4 linked regions of the Homo sapiens genome follow. The protein of the gene in region 3 purifies or fractionates together with the protein of the main gene of each other region. This does not show direct contact. Each region holds a gene or a part of one and is shown on either strand. Other genes may lie near its edges.

Region 1 (4,740 bases), on a different chromosome or scaffold from region 3:
GCTCTCTAGCCACTGGAACCATATATGGTACTTAATGAATATTTATTTAATGAAATGAGTGAGACAGAAGACATATACACATACTAAAAATCGCTAGCAATATTGGTATTAGCAATCATAGAGTAAAAGAGTGACAGACATGCATACAGAGATAAAGATAGAGATGAATGAGAAAAGCTGCCAGACATGAAGTTGAGGAGCACCCTAAAGAAGGTACAAGTTTAAGTGAGACTTTAAGAATGGTAGGATCGAAGAGGAAGTAAGATGGAGAAAATACAAATAAAGACTCAGAGACAGGGATGGGTTCTGACCAAGCCCAGGGTGCAATAAGCCCCTTGGCTTGCCTAAGTGGGATTAGGGTCTGACTTTGAGTGTGGACCCAGAGTTTAGGACCCTGTGTAGCACCCTAGTGGACACGTACCTCATCAATCTGATGTGCACTGTCACTTCTAGCACCCAAGCGTACCATACCAAGGGCAGCTGAGAGGCTCAGGGGAGAGAAAAATATGTTTTTATGACGATCATCTTTGCCTATCTCTTGAAAAAGATCAAAGCAAAATTTGGTGTTTGCTGTAACAAGAGAGTCCATTGTAAAACTTATAACGATCTAAAACCAAAAAAAAAGGAGAAAGAGAAAATGGTGATTGGAAGAAAATAAGTGAACAAACAATTTTATTTTACATACCTGAAATACAATCATGCACAATTATTCAGTATGCTATTAAGAACTGGAAAACTAAGGTCATTATCATCCCTGTATATAAATATTGGTGTTGATATTGATAGACAGAGATCTATTTTCATTTAGTAGTGTGAATTCGTTTCCTGGGGCTGCCATAAGAAATTACCACAGACTGAGTGGTTTAAATAGCAGGAGTTTATTCTCCCATGGTTCTGGGGGACAAACGTCCAAAATCAAGATATCAGCAGATTTGGTTCATTTCAAGACTCTCAAGGAAAATCTGTTTCATGCCTCTCTCTCAGCTTGTGGTGGTTGCCAGCAAACTTTGACATTCCTTGACTTGTAGACAAATCACTCAAGTCTCTGCCTCCATCTTCACATCCTTCTCTTTATTGTCCATGTATGTATCCAAATTTCCCTCTTCTTTTAAAGACAGCAGTCACTGAATTAGAGCCCATCCTAAGCCAGTACAACCTCATCTTAATTTGACCACATCTGCAAAGACCCTATTTCCAAACAAGGTCATATTCACAGGTAGAAGGATTAGGACTTAAACTATATTTTTAGGGGACATAATCCTACCCACTTTGTGGTGGAACTCCCTGTATTCACGTAAAATGAAGCCAAAGGCTAACATTCTTATTATCAAGTTAGCAGCCAAGCAAACATCATCCCATCTCATTCTTCTCCACAGATTGTGGCTGGTTCTGCTTACACCTTTTGCCTGTACTCTCCCCTCATTGCTCTGTGACTGAGGATATGCCCAGCAAATTCCCATGGGTCATGTGCCTTGTTAACATTCTCACCCCCTTTTGACTCATCCCACATGCAAACTACAGAATTTGAGGCACTTTAGTCAGTCATTCATATTGTTCAAGAGACAATAAATCTTGAATGATGCTGGGGGTCTTGATGTCACCAGGTGTACTAGTCCATTTTCACACTGCTACAAAGAATACCAGAGACTGTGTCATTTATAAAGGAAAGAGTTTTAATTGACTCACAGTTCCGCATGGCTGGGGAAGCCTCAGGAAACTTACAATCATGGCGGAAGGAGAAGGAGAAACAAGTACCTTCTTCATTAGGCGGCAGGAGAGAGAGAGAGAAAAGGAGGAACTGCCAAACACTTATAAAACCATCAGATCTCATGAGAATTCACTCACTATCACAAGAACAGCATGGGGGAAACTTCCTCCATGATCCAATCACCTCCCACCAGGTCTCTCCCTCAACACGTGGAGATTATGGGGATCACAATGTGTGATGAGATTTGAGTAGGGACACAGAGCCAAACCATATCACCAGGTTCAATGTCCTCTTTGACAGTGTAGAACTACAGATAATATAGAACCAGAGTGAGATAGTGACTTCCTAAGAACAGGTATCTTGCCTTCCCCACCCAATCTATTCCAGAGTATCAAGAGAATATGTAGATCTCACCACTGACCTATGCCTTTCAAATGAAATGCCTTTTCTTTTGTCTCTTTGCCTATAGATATTGTGTATTTCCAAGATAGAAATGTAAATCCTCTTATTTGTGCTTTTATCATCAGATACAGCACACCATAAGCATGAAGAAATATTGCTGCATTGAATGGAATGGTGTAATTTGTTTTAACACTTTCCCAGTTAATATAGATTTTCTTAGCCTATAAAACCTAATTCAAAAAGATAACATTATGTAACTTTTTAAAAAATGTGTCTAACATGTGCCAAATATCTTACATGTGTTAGCTTTAATCCTACAACTCTGCAAGGTAGATATGATCATTCCTTCTTTTTCAGAAAAGAAAACTGCATAATCAAATAGCACATATATTTGGCCCCAAACTAAGTAATCTTTCTACTGTATCTATCGTTTCTAAGTTGCCCCTCAACTGATGATAGGTGATCAAACACATGCCTGCTGTATGTGGGTACTCTCCCCCCTTATTCAGCTTATAGTCCATTTTATTGCTACATTTTCTTTCTGCCAAGTTTGTACCTAACTCACAGTTCTTATCTTGCATCTGGGAACTGGGTTTGAGACGTACTTTGTATTTTCAAACTAATTTCAGGGTAATCATAGATCACCAGAGTGTTTTCAGGAGCATTATGCCTTAATTGGTGGGTGTTTTTTGAGTAATGGATGTCCTGGATGTATCTGGAAATTCAATAATGCCTCACAACTCAGAAAGCTACCTTTGCATATGTTGGTAAACATCTTGATGTCCAACAGATTTTCTCTACACATAGCTCACATTACCCATCTAGTAACAAGTCTACTAACAAAGAAAAGAAAACCAACAAATTAAAGATGGTCTGAGTTGGGGGGATTTCACAGGCTTTCGATTAATGATAAAATTTTGTGTGAAATGTAGTCTAATATTTTTTAAAACCTTTGTTGTATAACTTAGGTTAATGTTTGATCAAAATCTTCAGCTCGAAGGAGGAGAAGGTAAAGGGAATCCTGGCAATTTGGCCATCACTATTAAAAGAAGACAAGAGCCTGACTATATTGAAGGAAAAGAAGGGGTTGGTTAGAAAGACTGAATGATCCCAACCTGGCTCTTCAAATGTTCCAGTTAATCACTTGGCTTCACCCCTTCTGCCTTCTAGCATGAGCACTCCCAGAACTGAATGATCAGAGTCTTGCCTGCTTTAGAAAGGACATGACTACTCATGCAGGCCAACTCCCTACTTCTCAAGATAAAAAAAACTGAGGCCAAATGAGGCGAAGTGACTTGCAACAATCATGCAGCTGTCCAGAAGCAAAGCAAGGCTAAGACTTCCTCATGCCTAGGGCTGCTTCCTCCTAGATCACACAGTTTTTCACATTCCATTCCATTCTAATTCTGGCACTACACTTACTCACTCTGTGGGCTACAGAACACTCCAAAACTCTCTCTGCCTGTTTCTGCATCAAGCTTCTATAAACTTTGTGAACTACTTTCCAGGAGTACTGTGATGCTCTCACCCCAGTAACAATTCCCTTTTCTGAGTGTTACCTGGTTCTAAGCTTTCATTACAGTTGTGTGCAGCTTTAATGCTGCCTCACCTCCCAAGGGAGTTGAGAGAACAATAGTAACAGAAAACAACGAAAAAAAAACAGCTGGACAGTTGCTGTTAAAGTTTTATGACTATATGTAAGCCCTTACAATAGGAAGATCTTTCCTGGCTTTACATACAAGTCTAAAACATAGCAAATAATGAACATTTAATGACTAGATTAAAATGTCATCTGCTAACCACCTTCTGAAGGGTTGCTTGGTTATTTTGGGGGGTGGGGGTGAGTCAGTTTTTTTAAATTAGAAACTGCCTAAATCTGACACCAACCTAATTATGAAGTTCTCCCACTGGGTTAGTCACTATATATAAAAGATGAACTGAACAAGACACAATCTCTGCCTTTGAGAAATCTATGACCTAACAGAGCAGATAATGCATTCGCAGATTCAGGAGTAGAGTTTAAGACGCATAGAAGAGTAAGATATTAATTTACAAAATGAAATAGAAAAGGGAAAAGAGTATTTTGTAGGAAGCACTCATTAAGATTTGATTATGCTAATAACACAGATTCAAATAGGCAATTTTAAAATATAACACTTTAAAAATACTTTAAAGCTTTTTAACATTGCTTTTATTTATTAAAAATAAGCTTAGACTGTTAGTAAAAATCATGTTATGTTATGTTGTTGCAATTAAAAAGAAAAGAGAAAGAAATTTAAGATTAATTGTCTTGTTCTCATCAAAAATCCCTTTGAAACCAGCCTAATTTTCCATAGAAATGAGTTTATGGTCTTTTTGAATAAACATAGAAATTGACCCTCCTGGTCTTAAAGCTTGAAACTTACATTTGTCGTATCTGAATTACTTCTTCAGGAAACCCATTCGCAGGCCTCCCAGAGAGTATCAAGCAACTGAAATTCACATCATGGCATGCACACAAAGAGATAGCAGAACCCACACTCGTCTTGATTATTTTCTTTCCCCTCCCTAATCCTTATTTTCCCATATGTAGCTACATTTCTTCCCCACTATATAAACCTCCCATTTTAGTAAGTTGAGGGAGAATGATT
Region 2 (4,740 bases), on a different chromosome or scaffold from region 3:
TCCTGGAACTGGTACTAGGGTCATCTTTCCTTTAGTTATGAGGAGTGCTACCTGAATAAAATAGAGTTTTGTTAGGAAGAAGGAAGGAAGTACTAAATGCTGGATTAGCAATCAATAATGTCCATTATCTTCAAGTAGAGTCACATCTTATATGGGAGGTAAAGTTCTAAAGTTGTCACATAAAAAGAGTCATGTACATTCAAAATTACCTTCAAAGTTTCTTAAAACCACATGACATTTTAGAGAATGATGTAACATCTTTCAGTAAATTCAGTACAACTATTTTCCCAACATTCAATAGATTTCTGTTTCTTTGGTGAAGCCAGATTAAAAGTTGATTTGGATTTATAGGACCCAGTGATATTTTCTACTATGAAAGGCACACAGGAAGGAAAGAAATAGCAGAGTCATATCTCCTAACGGACTATACATCTGCTATAAAAATGGAGTGGGATGGTGGGTAAAAGCACCCACAGTACAGTGCAGTAATAATTTATAAAATTATGCAAATTTGAAAGAGTACAACATAAAATATTAATAAATTATCTCATGATTGGAAGCATTTGAAATAATAGAATTTTAAAAATTTTTTATATCAGCAATCATACAATATTGAAAGGAGTGGCTACATGAATTGGAAACCATGTTTTTGCTAAAGCCCATGGTGGTGCCACTTCAGCAAGCAAAGAAATACCTGCTTTTCTTTGACAACTGTATGGGAAATTAATCTTCAATTATGCGAGTTTTAAATTAAGTGAGACAGAATGCCAGTAATGGCATTTCATAACGTAAAATCTAACTGCTTTGCATTTAAACTATTTTTTTCTCACTATCTGGGGGCCAGGGTACTAAATGGGTCTAGTTGAATTCGCATACTACAAATGCCCATGTAATGTAACTTCACTCTATTTTATTGATATTGATATTTAACTAGGACAGTAAGAGTTTTTTTGTTTTTTTTTTTTAATGTAGTTTCGCTCTGTGGCCCAGGCTGTAGTGTAGTGGCAAGATCTCTGCTCACTGCAACCTCTGCCTCCTGAGCTTAAGCGATTCTCCTGCCTCAGGCTCCCAAGTAGCTGGGAGTACAGGTGCCCGCCTCCATGCCCAGCTAATTATTTTTGTACTTGTAGTAGAGACGGGGCTTCACCAAGTTGGCCAGTCTGGTCTTGAACCCCTGACCTCAAATGATCCAACTGCCTTGGCCTCCCAAAGTGCTGGGATTACAGGCATGAGCCACTGTACCCGGCCAGGAGATGTTTCTTTATGCCAGTAACACTACCCCACACCCTTGCTTTATGTGGGGTGTTTGATTGAATCAATAATTAATACTACAATGTACATACACAACCAATGAAACATTTGTGTTCTGTCAAGGTAGAGAAGCAACAAGATAAACAAAGTCTGGCATGGTTGAGACCACAAAATACAGTCAGTTGTTAAGTCTTGAAGAGAGCTAGAGGATATAGAAGTAGCCCAAAGATCAAGGCATAATAATTTGTTAGAAGTCAGGAATAGGTAGTACAGTAGATGTAGAAAGCCACAGCCAGAACCAAAATTTCCTTAGGCAGAGGGAGTAGATTCCAAGATGTACTAGACCGACTTCAAGTAACAATAGTTATGAATATGCCCCAATATCCTTGTTTGTGTTTCCCAAAATGTGTTCAGTGGAACACTATTTCCTTGAGTTGCTCTTTGAAAAAGGGCTCTGTCATCAAATAAATTTGCAAAATACTACAGACATTTATTTTGGAGAATATCAGGACATATTATCTTTTTAAAGGATATTCCTACAGAAAAGACACCTTTTTACTTCTTTTAATCTAGAATTTCCTAAATGTACTTTATCATGGGATATTGTATTTCAGCACCAAACCTACTAACATCCCACAGAAATGGTTCCCAAGTATATATTTGAGAAACCCTGACTTGATGTCACCTTTCATGCTTCACACCTGGGCAGGAATTGTAGGCCAGATAATTGGAGTGGGAGGTTCGTTCCTGAAGGCATCAATTGGGAAATACTTGAGATTTTTTTTAGAAATGAAAGAACCCTTGTTGCCAATAAACTCAAATCTTCATGGAGTTAAAATTTGAGAAAATTTATGTTAAAATAAGGTGTTTATCATATTAACTTGGGTAGTTTTTAAAATTAGTAAGATTGGCGTAGTGGGAAGTATTTGGACTCACAAGACCTACATTCAGATTCTGGTTCTGAAAAATGCTACTGTTGTACTTTTGTATAGGTCTTGTATTTGTAACGCTAGTGTTTTTAGTAAACATACCCAAAAACTTTAATGGCCTGAACATGACTGAGGTTTATTTCTTGCTCACCTAAAGCCCAAACAGGTGTTTGTGATTGATAGGTAGCTTTCTTCAAAGCTTTATTTAGGAACCCAGGCTCCATCCATTTTTTGACTCTGCCAACTTCATCAGGTAACTACCAGAGTCAGTGTGCTCATAGGCATCAATCTGTGGATGGAAAGAGGATGGAGGAGAGCCAGAGGAGTTTTTAGGGGTAGGCCTAGAAATGGTGCACCTCAAGTGTGCTCACATTCTGTTGGTTAGGACACAGTTATGTGACCACACTTATTTGGAAGGAAAGCTGGAAATGTAGTCTACCTATATATGTAGGAAGAAGAAAAAGTGGATTTGGTGAACATCTAGCCAGTTTCTACTAAAACATTTAGTATAAATTGTTCTGTAAAAGGAACAGATTATACCTGTGTGAATGATAAATAGGTTTCAACACAAGTGAGAATCATTCAATAAGTAGTTGCCACCTAGAACAACAACTAAGAATGATTCCCAGGCTGGGTATAGACTCAGTAGAAAAAGATCTTCCAACAATCAGCAATATCTGTCATGTAGAGAACATAAGGAATAGTGCCACAAGTGAGATACATTTACCTCTCAAGAAGATCTCTGAGGTCCATCCCAGGATCTTAAATTTGAAGTTAGACTGTCCAGGAGTCCAGACTCAACTCAGTTCCACCATTTACTAGCTGTGTAACTTTGGGTAAATTAAACTATCTGTTGCCTCCTCAATAAGATAAGTAAAATAATACCATACCAATACCAAAGGGTTACTGAGAATTAAATGATTCGAACATATGAAGACTTTGTGTGGCATTTAGAAAGTAAGTATTTATGGTACGTATTATTATAATTAACAGTTCCAGTCTTCAATTTGGATATTATAGTCTCTGAAGCAAAGGGCATAAATATAAAAGTCTAACTTAGGTGAATGCAGCCTCTGTTACCAATACAGATAGGAGTTAGGGCAACTTAAATAAATAAAATGAGTAAGCAACCCTGAAAATGATCAGAAATTTAGCATTCTTTCCTTGTCACCATCTGAGGAGTGTTAATGATCAATAAAATAGCCAATAGGCAGCAATCTGAGGAGATTAAGACAATCTATCTGAATTCTAGAGATGTGATGGCCAATAGCCAATAGTCAGCAATCTGAGGAGATTAAGACAATCTATCTGAATTCTAGAGATGTGATGGCCAATAGCCATAATGACATAGTTTTCAATATCTTATCAAAGAAAATAATCCAACTCATCTTAAAAGAAGAAAAGCAAATGAACAAACTTAGAATGTATTCATAGAATTTATCCTCACAAGAATTTTATTGTTAGAATCTTTGAGTAACAAACACTAATATAATATATAATACCTTCAATGGCTGTTTTGCAAAATATGCAGAAGTGTTATTCCATATGGCTATTTATTACGTCAACTCTTTATAAAAAGAAGGACATAATATGAGATGTTATAAATAACTGGGATGGGCCTGAGGCTTTAAATCCTGTCACCTTGTGACACTTAAAAGAGTTCATGATTATTCCAATTAAACAAATAGCCGTGAACTTTATAACACAAAATTGTCCACTTAAGAATTGAATCGGGGGGCAGTTCCAAGACGGCTGAATAGGAACAGCTCCAGTCTACAGCTCCCGGCATGAGTAACGCAGAAGACAGGTGATTTCTGCATTTCCAACTGAGGTACCGGGTTCATCTCACTGGGGCTTGTTGGACAGTGGGTGCAGAATGGTGGGTGCAGGACACCGAGCATGAGCCAAAGCAGGGAGAGGCATCGCCTCACGTGGGAAGCGCAAGGGGTAGGGAATTCCCTTTCATAGCCAAGCAAAGCTGCGACAGACAGCACTTGGAAAATCAGTCACTCCCACCCTAATACTGCTCTTTTCCAATGGTCTTAGCAAACGGCACACCAGGAGATTATATCCCGCGCAAGGATCAGAGGGTCCCATGCCCACGGAGCCTTGCTCATCTCTCGTTGCCAGCACAGCAGTCTGAGATCGAACTGCAAGGCAGCAGCGAGGCTGGGGGAGGGGTGCCCACCATTGCTGAAGTTCGAGTAGGTAAACAAAGCGATCTGGAAGCTCGAACTGGGTGGAGCCCACCGCAGCTCAAGGAGGCCTGCCTGCCTCTGTAGACCCCACCTCTGGGGGCAGGGCATAGCCAAACAAAAGGCAGCAGAAACCTCTGCAGACTTAAATGTCCCTGCCTGACAGCTTTGAAGAGAGTAGTGGTTCTCCCAGAATGGAGTTTGAGATCTGAGAACGGACAGACTGCCTCCTCAAGTGGGCCCCTGACCCCCGAGTAGCCTATCTCGGAGGCACCCCTCAGTAGGGGCAGACTGACACGTCACACGGCCAGGTATCCTGCTGAGACGAAACCTCCACAGGAACAATCAGACAGCAACATTTGCTG
Region 3 (4,740 bases):
TAATCGTGGCTGAGGCACACAGGAACTCACCCCAGGACACAGCTGGTTAGCAAGGAAGCCAGGATTTCAGCCCAAGTAGCCTGGCTCTGGTCCCCTTGCTTCATCAGCACACTCCAGGAGCCCCCAGTCCTTCCTTGAGCCTCCATTTCCTCATCTGTAAAATGAGACCAATGGGACTTCCCTAGCTGGGTGCTCTGAGGACCACCAGAGAGAGTGCAGGTGAAGCACTCAGCACCTGTTATTCCCCACTCAAGTCCAATTTAGTTCTCTCTGGGGATGCCTAGACAGCAGAACGTTCTCCCCGGCCTGCTCCTCTGCCCCACCCCCAGGACCTGTACCATCAAAGCCCCTAACAGACTCTTGGCAGCCAAGGCAGTGGCCAGGGAGGGTGTGGGCCCCTGGTACACTGAGACCAGAAACCCACGTGCCCTGCCATTGGGTCCACGCCCCTCAGCTCCTCAGGTGGGCTGGTGGGAAAGAAGAAGGCATGAGGGGCGCCAGATATAGCCAGCTCAATGGGTGATGAGTGACGCAGCCCTGCTGGGAGGCTAGGGCCTGAGGTAGGCAGGCGGCTGTAATTAGAGCCGCCAGTGATTCAGGCATTCCCCGAATAGGAGGGAAAAAAACAGAAGCTGCTGAATCCCCACAGCAGCTGGGGCCAGCGAGAAGTCTGGAGCCAGCAGACACCCACCCTGGGGCTAAGACAAACAAATGTCTTGACTTGAGGAAGAGGGTCGGGCCAGGGATCTGGGGGTCCTGTCCTCCCCACCCAACGGTGTCCTTGTTCCAAACCCAAGGTGGGAGCGAGTAAGAAGTCCAAACTGAGAAGAGCGTTATTGAGCTTTGTTGAGTATGGCCTATGCGGCCTGTAGCTGGCTGTCAACTGCGTCAGGGGTGGGTTTGTCAGCCCCCTGTACACGTGGGCACATGCCTACCCCTTAGAGGCAGGAAGCCAAGAGAGGAGGGGTGATGCAACTTGCCCAAAAACACACTGGGGGTCCCTCTGACAGCAAAGTTCACACTCTTTCCAGCCTCCCTTTGGAGGGAATACAATGGGATGGTGTCCTACTGGCTCGCAAAGCAGAGGGGTGGTGGCTGGGGCTGCAGGGAAGGCATGGAGGTGGGAGAGGTGAGGTGTGAGCAAGATGCTCCCAGCGGACTTGAGTGAACCTGAGATTGCCAGGGAAGGAGGTCAGGTAAAGATGAGGGGATAAAGTGCCAGGGTGAGGGGCTGCACAATCAGGGAGGCCTCCTGGAGGGGAGTGGGTGTGGAGCAGAGCCAGGAAAGGGCAGAAGCCACTGGGAGAGGACTGTGTCATCAGGAGGGAGTGAGGAACGGGGAGCCAATGCCAGGAGGTCGGGGGGAGAGAGAGAGGATGTGTCATAGAAGATGCAAGAGGGAGAAGGATGGGCTGCTTTTCTTTAATTGGCAAAGAGACCCCAAGTGGGATAGCACAGGCCCTGAGCCCCAACCAAGGGGAGTTCACCAGGCCCAAGCCCCCACCATATCCAGCTGAGCAACCCCTCTCTCCCTCCCAGGTATGAGGATGAGATCTCCAAGCGCACAGACATGGAGTTCACCTTTGTTCAGCTGAAGAAGGTAGCCTGCCCAGCCTGCCCCAGGGGCTCCTTCCTCATGGGCCCTGGGCCCTCTTTCCCTCCAGATATCCTACTCTCCTTTATGCCCAATCAAAGCCCTCAGAGGCTTAAGTCCCAGGACCAACAGACAGACAGGGAGATACCCCCATCCCCATCCAGCTCCTTTTTCGAGGCTCTGAGCCAGATCTCCTCTGGAATCACCCCCACTCTCACCCAGGAGGCAGCCCCCCAGCCCACTCCTGCCCTGGGACCCTCCATTCCCTCTCCCACCACTCACCACTGCTGCCAACCCCAGGACCTGGATGCAGAGTGTCTTCATCGGACTGAACTGGAAACCAAGTTAAAAAGCCTGGAGAGCTTCGTGGAGTTGATGAAAACCATCTATGAGCAGGTGAGTGAGATGGGGCCAGTGTCTTGCCAAGCCCAGAGCTGGCTGGTCCATGGGTAAAGGACACAGGGGAAGCACAGCCATCCAGTGGGGCATGGAACCTCCAACAGTCACTTACAATTTCCAGCCCCAGAATAATAATTTCCTAAACCCCTTCCTGTGATGGTGTCAATAACCCTGCATGACCCCTGGACATTCATCTCATGGAACATGGGCTGGTTCCCCAAAGGCCACTCTTTCTGGAAGAACTATACCTTTGTGTGCTAGAGTACTGAGGGCATGCTGGGGACCAGGTGCCTCGGACAAGGGTCAGGAGGCTGGCCTCAGTGGCATGGAACCCAGGGGTCTGGAACGAGCATGCTGATTGAACTGATCTCTCCCTAATTCCTGCAGCCTAAACCACAGCACCCACAGTGCTAGTTCTGATAGGCCTGCCTTTCCGTTTTCCCCATTTTTGGCGAAGACAGAGGAAACATTCGCATTTGTTTCCTAAGTCCTCAGTGGGGCCCAGTGTACAAGGGCCCATAACAGCATGGCATGCATCAACACAGCCATTAGATGGGCACTGCCGCTGGCTTCTGGACACCACTCCTCCATGCCAGCTGCTGACTCCTAGGCACCCTTCAGGATATGTGTCCTCCTCTCCACACCACTTGTTTCAAGGGTGAGGAGGTTCAGGGGTGACACTCCTGAGCTAAAGTCCCTTCCACAGAGGTCTGCAGTTCAGCTAGGAGCAGGCAGCACCACTGTTGGAGATAACAGGGCTTGCCCGCCTAAGTGCTGCACACTGCTGGTGCCAAGCTATGGCAGTGCAGCCAAGGTCAAGGCTGAGATCAAAGTCACCACCACAACTTACAGATTCTGCTAAAATGGCCCTATGATCTGCTGACCACAGCTTCATGGCTGCATCCTGTGGAAAGGAAGACCGGGCCTCATGGCCCTGTCATGGGTCACAGTCCTTTCCAGCAGTCCCAGCTGCCAGCTGGGGCCTCCGTGGAACTGAGTCTTGTTTGTGGCCACGAGAGGTAGCATAGCAGAGAGAACAGCAAACCCTTGGGAGCAGCAGGAAGGCAGCCCTCCTAGGCAGTCCGCTCTCCCCACAGCCCTGAAAAGCTTCCTGGCCCTAACAAATCCCCCCACAGCCAGGCCAAGTGCTATGGGGCTGACCAGGGCACCATGCCCACTGGCTGGGTGGGAACTGGGCTAGGGGCTTCTCTGCCCAAACTCACTGTGGGCTGGTGCAGCCCAGGCTGGCATCAGCAGGGCCATCTCCTGTCTCCACTGGGCTGGATCTCTGCCACCCTTAGGCCTCCACCCACTCATACTGCCTCTGAGAGGCTGAGTCCATGGGTGAGTGCAGATTCTGCCGAGCCTAGATGGAGTGCAGATTCTGAAAACCGAGCCCAGTGTTTCTCTACCTGCTCACTGATGTCTCAGCAAGCTCAGAGCTCAAGCTCTAAGCCATGATGCAGGCCCTGCAGCTGTAGAGACATAACTGGAAGAAGGCTGGGCATAACCAGTGATATTCCTGAGCACCCCACAAGACTTCTTGGCCCCTGCCCCAGTAGCCAGGCCTGTGGGTTCCCTTTGGATTTTGCAGTCCTTGGGCCCCAATCCCAACTTGGCCTTGTTTTTTTTTTTTACTATTTCTGTAACTTTAGGCAAGTTTTTTCTCCTCTCTGTGCCTTAGTGTCCTTATCTGTAGCATGGAGAGAGTAACAGGACCAGCCTCATAGGGCTGTGAGGAGGACTCAGCCCACTCATTCATTTAACAAATGTTTATTGCATGCCTACTAAGTGCCAGGCACTGATACCACAGCCTGGGCAAGGTCCCTTCTCTCAAGGAGGGCATGACTTAGCTGAGACAAGTCATAAGCAAGTCAGCAAATATCTGGACAAGATCGCTTCGCAGGGTGACAGATTCTGGGATGCAAAGAAACCGGGTGCTGCGCTGGAGCCGGAAGGAGGGAAGAGCCTCAGAGCCCATGAGCGGGGCCTCTCACAGGCGGTACCCTCCCTAAGAGTGGCAGAGATCCAGCCCAGTGGAGACTGGAGATGGCACAGAATTGCTATGCAAAGCCCCTAAGGCAGGAGGGGAGCCTGGCGATTAAAGAAAAAGAAAGAAGTCTCTGGTCAGAGCACACGGGGCAGGGTGGGAGCTTTGGGTCAGAGAGTGCCTCACAGGGTTGTCTCACGACTTGGACCTCATTCTGAGTGTGACAGGCAGCCTTCGGTGGGCACTGGGGCGGGGTGGCAAACAGCGGGTTTCAGGTGTGGTTGTGCTATCCTGAGCCTGCTGTGGAGAAGGGCTTGCGATGGAGGCAGTAGGGGCCAGGGAACCACAGCAGTTATTATTACTTTTGAAAGCAGCAAGATGGGGTTGAAATTGGAGGTTTGCCTTTCTCTCCATACACTGCTGCAGGCTAAGAGGGCAATGCTGACTCTTTGCCAAAACTATTCCCCACACCAGAGGGTGTCTTAAGTCAGTGCCGTCTGATAGAAATACAATGTGAACTGCATATGTAATTTTAAGTTTTCTAGTCACCACATTTTAAAATAACAGAAAAAATAATTTTAATAATATATTTTATTTAGCCCAATATATCAAAAATATAATTATTTCGACATCTACCTCATTGGACAGAGCAGCTCTGAGTAAAGACTGTGCCAGCCACACCTGCCTCAGGTGGAAGAAAAACCTGGCAGAACACGAGTGGCCCAGGAGGCCCTGATACTCTAGTTTCAGCTTTGGA
Region 4 (4,528 bases), on a different chromosome or scaffold from region 3:
CTGTCCCCAGCTTGTGCCCCCTTGGGAGTTAAAGTAGAATGACAAGACCCAGGTTCTGGTCCCGGCTCTGCCTTGGAGCAGCACTGGGACTTGGGACCCTGAATTGCTATGCCCATGGCTCTCTGTTGGAGAAGCCTCAGCGAAGCCCTTAGGTGGACAGGAAGAGCAGAGACATGGGGTCACTGATCCCTCAGAGGCCCAAGGTGTGTGTGGCCCTCTGCGCCCATAGGAAGGGCCTGCAAGAGAAGGACAAGGTGTGGCTGTTGCGGGAGCAGAAGCGCAAGAAGAAACTCCGCAAGCTGCTCAAGCGCCTGCAGAACAACGACACGTGCAGCATGCCAGGCCTCACGTGCTTCACCCACGACAACCAGCACTGGCAGACGGCGCCTTTCTGGACACGTGAGCAAGCCCAGGGCAGGGGTGGACAGGCTGAGGCCCAGGGGTTCAAGAAACTTCTCCACTTAGTGACCCAGACCTCTCTCAGAAAGGGGGTCCCCAACACCAGGGGTCCACGGTGCTCGGGACAGCCTCTTGGCATTTGACGAACTGGTTTTAGGGGCTGTCCCTGACAGGAATCACTGTTGGCAGATGGGGCCTCCTCCCGCAGGCACTCAGGACATGCTCTCTCTTCCTTGGCAGTGGGGCCTTTCTGTGCCTGCACCAGCGCCAACAATAACACGTACTGGTGCATGAGGACCATCAATGAGACTCACAATTTCCTCTTCTGTGAATTTGCAACTGGCTTCCTAGAGTACTTTGATCTCAACACAGACCCCTACCAGGTACAGGCAACCCGAGCTAGAGGGATGGGGGTGTGGGGTACACCAGTGCTGCCAGGTAGGCCCCCCCCAACCTCAGGGAAGTGATGACAAATTGTCCAAGTCCCACTGAGTCCCTGAGCCGGTGGGAGTAAGTTGTGAAGCTGCTGAGATTGGGGGTTCTGTGTTCAATCAGCCTTTTTTGCCTCCATCACCCTGCTTTTTGCCTCCATCACCCTGCGTGTGTAATATATATGGCTTCTTCCCTCTAACTTAACATGCAGCATGCAACCAGGTTTTGCCGGAACTTGTGAAGACTCCTAACACTGTCAGGCTGTAGGATCAAGCCAAATATCACCCACTGCAGGGCCTACACGGACCGCGCAGCTAATATAACAGTAACACACTGCACCAAGCACTCTGCTAAGTGCTTCCGTACAGTAAGCCATCTAAACACACATGCGACTGAAGTGGCCCAGGACCACACAAGACCAAAAGGAGCAGTGGCATGTCTGGTCATCGGAACATGTGGGCCCTTGTACAGGGACAGTCACTACTGAGCTCCAGCACTAGAGCTTTCCTGTACTGTGGCCTTGGTATTGCCCAGGCTTTGACCTTTCAAGAAAAGCCTGAAATAATTTAAATGAAATCTGATGTTTAAATGTCAGCAGCACAAATGCTTTAATTACTATATAGGTGTGCAGTCTTTCTCCTTAGATAGGTTCACCCTCATACTTTACCAAAGGGGTAGGTTAAGTCCCTCACCGGTAGCTCCCAGACTACACAAGAACCCAGGCCACTTACCCGTCCTTTCATCAAATGGCTGCTTTGCAATCAGGAGGAGCTGAGGGCCCCTGAATGAAGGCTGCTGATAAAACCAAGACTTGGAAGGCTTTCTTTCCAAGCTTGGGAAGTTTCCTGACCAGTGGCTGCAGAACTCCAACGTTAAATACACAGACGTGGTTTTTATTCTCCTGAGTTTTCACTCTCATGAAGAGTGAACCTGGTGGGACTTGAAGCCAAAAAGTCACCTAACTCTTCCAAACGCTGGCTCTTGCAGAAGTTGGAGTAAACAGGTCACCAGCCCCTAGCACCTTCCACCCGCCACCTGCCTGAAATATGTCCCCTGGTTGGTAGAAGGGCAGGGCGAGAGTCCCTGTACTTACCTTGTTGACAGACTACCTTTTTTGCAACCAGCTGATGAATGCAGTGAACACACTGGACAGGGATGTCCTCAACCAGCTACACGTACAGCTCATGGAGCTGAGGAGCTGCAAGGGTTACAAGCAGTGTAACCCCCGGACTCGAAACATGGACCTGGGTGAGTAGGCACCCCAACGTGGGGCCCTTGGACAGCAGGGTAACCAAAGGAAGGGACTCAGGAGGTGGTGTCTACCCCAAGAATGAGCCTGAAATCACCAGGCTTTGGGAGGTGATACAGTTCCAGACGAGTCATGGGAGCCCCTGTCCATAGCAGGCAGATGACCTTTAACAAGCTGTGATTCCTGAGAGAGGAACACCTGCACCAACTGCCCAGGAAACACACGGAATTCCGTCTCATTTCATTGTCCTCCCTTTTGTCCACTCATGCATTCAACAAACACTTCCTGAGAACTTACACCTGAAACCATGTTGACTAAAGATGACCCCATCCTCGCTGACTTGTGTGGAGCCAGTGTTGTCCTAAGAAGAGCAGTCCACAGCAGGAGGCCTCTTGCTTGTATGGAAAGGGTAAAACTGGATGGTAGAATCCAGTGTGACTGGGGAAGGGCACTGCTAAATAAAACCAGGGTCAGACCTCTGAACTGAGTCCTGAAAAGTAGGATGCAATCGACCACTGAGAAAACGTGGAGGGCTGGCGCTCCAGGAAGCTTAAAGTGTGAGGAGCAGAAAGCAGCTCAGGGGGTGCAGCCAACACAACTGAGGCCAGTGGAGAGTGGCGGGAGGGCATCGGGCCACCCTGTGTGGGGCTTCCTAGGCCACGGTAGAGTTTAGATTTCATTTGTGGTGTATCAGGAAGCCAATGGAGGGTTTTAACCTGGGCACCGACATTTGCTAGGTGGAGAATGGGACTTTATGGGAGAAAACAGCGAAGATGGCCCAGTTATCCAGGGAGAAATGGTGGTGGCTTGGACTAGAGGTGGGAGCAGTAAAGATGATGGATTTCAGATTCAGGTGGTGAAGCCCCCAGACAACATGGTGATGGGAGGTGCGGGATTAGGAGTCCCAGGTAAATCCTGAGTTTTGTTTGGGACAGGACAAAATCTGCAGTTTTAAGTTTAGAATGCCAACCAGATAGATATTTTAAGATGAAAAAAGCTAAACAGGCATGGTTGCTCATGCCTATGATTCCAGGGCTTTGGAAGGCTGAGGTGGGAGGAGACTTGAGCCCAGGAGTTCAAGGTTACAGTGAGCTATGATAGCACCACTGCACTCCAGCCTGGGAGACAGAGCTGTCGCCCCATCTCTAAAAATAAAAAAAATATATTAAAAAAAGAAAACAAAGCTAAAAGAAAAATGAAGTTCACTTACTAGTGAGAGAGAGTGGCCTAAAAAAAACCTTTGGTATTTAAGGTCCCTTGGGGAAGGGACTGTGTCTAGGAGGATGCCTAGAGTTCATGTCAGGAAAATGGCTACACAGCTTAGGAGGAATTCAGACGCTACCGTCGGCTCTAGTTATGAAGAGGGAAGAGCTAATGTGTTTACACAAGATGTTGCACTAATACTTCTGGTCAGGAGCCTGATATGATCAGAATTTTCACTAGTAGCTTCCTAATCTCTGCCACTCAAGTGCTGCTACTCTTGTGATCAAAGTGCAATGACATATTAGTCACTGTGTGCCAGGCTCTGTGCTGAGCATTTTACATGTGTTAGCTGATAAGCTTTGAGGTGAATCTTATCCTCATTTTATGGAGGAGTAAGGTGAACAAGGTGGGCTGACCCCGGAGCCCACGCACTTGATCCTGCCACATCCTCGGGAAAACTTCCCCAGAGCCCAAAGGGGAACTCCCTCCTGCACTTGGTCAGGGCTCTTGGCTTTCTGTCCTCTGGAGCACAGATGTTCATGCCTGCATCTACCTCCCTCACCATAACTAAGGTCAGCGCTGAATGAAGCCATCAGGGTCCTGAAACTGATCATGGTGACACTGGATTTTAGGCAATCTACAAGGCTATCTAGGAGACTTAGGGCAGGTTCCCCTCATAATTCAGTCTACCCCTCATAATTCAGTCTACTCTGAGTAGGGAACACTATCAGCATCATGGGATTGTGACAAAAAAGCATAAGATGGTTTTCTGGTGTGTTGGGGTTGTTTTGCCTAAACTATCTGCTCCTGTTTTGTTTTTCATTTCTCCTTCATTTAGGACTTAAAGATGGAGGAAGCTATGAGCAATACAGGTATTTCGTTTTATTATTAAAGCCTAAACAAAGTTCTCCTATCTTGGCCCATCCTTCAGTCTCATCTCTGTGAGTCTGCACCTGTTATCTTGAGAAACTGCCCTTCCCTCTGGTCTGCCCGAGACCAGGATCACCCACCAAAGATAGGTGTCACCTAGGAGACCTTCTTTGTATAGTTCTTTGGGGACTTTTTCTTTCTTGGTGATGGTTAACATTCATTCTCCTTTGACACTTGAAAACTTAGGCAGTTTCAGCGTCGAAAGTGGCCAGAAATGAAGAGACCTTCTTCCAAATCACTGTGAGTTGAGGAACCAGCTTACAAATAGAAATCTGGTTCTGACCGCTTCATTTTGCCAATGCTATTCTATTTGCA

What was found.
Region 1: the proteins of KRT80 (region 3) and SERPINB12 fractionate together in Homo sapiens (co-fractionation; one large-scale study listed by BioGRID). This does not show direct contact.
Region 2: the proteins of KRT80 (region 3) and RNLS purify together in Homo sapiens (pull-down; one study listed by IntAct). This does not show direct contact.
Region 4: the proteins of KRT80 (region 3) and SULF2 purify together in Homo sapiens (co-immunoprecipitation; one large-scale study listed by IntAct). This does not show direct contact.

The regions. Positions count from the first base shown.
Region 1 is NC_000018.10:63,552,009-63,556,748, reverse strand, and holds part of SERPINB12 (serpin B12), read right to left. Parts: intron 608-4,740; coding exon of another isoform or gene 590-607; coding exon 422-589; intron 1-421. UniProt on the Homo sapiens protein: Inhibits trypsin and plasmin, but not thrombin, coagulation factor Xa, or urokinase-type plasminogen activator. May play a role in cell differentiation.
Region 2 is NC_000010.11:88,355,539-88,360,278, reverse strand, and holds part of RNLS (renalase isoform 1 precursor), read left to right. Parts: intron 1-4,740. UniProt on the Homo sapiens protein: Catalyzes the oxidation of the less abundant 1,2-dihydro-beta-NAD(P) and 1,6-dihydro-beta-NAD(P) to form beta-NAD(P)(+). The enzyme hormone is secreted by the kidney, and circulates in blood and modulates cardiac function and systemic blood pressure.
Region 3 is NC_000012.12:52,177,763-52,182,502, reverse strand, and holds part of KRT80 (keratin, type II cytoskeletal 80), read left to right. Parts: intron 1-1,539; coding exon 1,540-1,600; coding exon of another isoform or gene 1,601-1,894; coding exon 1,895-1,990; intron 1,991-4,740.
Region 4 is NC_000020.11:47,659,324-47,663,851, reverse strand, and holds part of SULF2 (extracellular sulfatase Sulf-2 isoform a precursor), read left to right. Parts: intron 1-229; coding exon 230-399; intron 400-639; coding exon 640-782; intron 783-1,955; coding exon 1,956-2,079; intron 2,080-4,121; coding exon 4,122-4,155; intron 4,156-4,399; coding exon 4,400-4,453; intron 4,454-4,528. UniProt on the Homo sapiens protein: Exhibits arylsulfatase activity and highly specific endoglucosamine-6-sulfatase activity. It can remove sulfate from the C-6 position of glucosamine within specific subregions of intact heparin.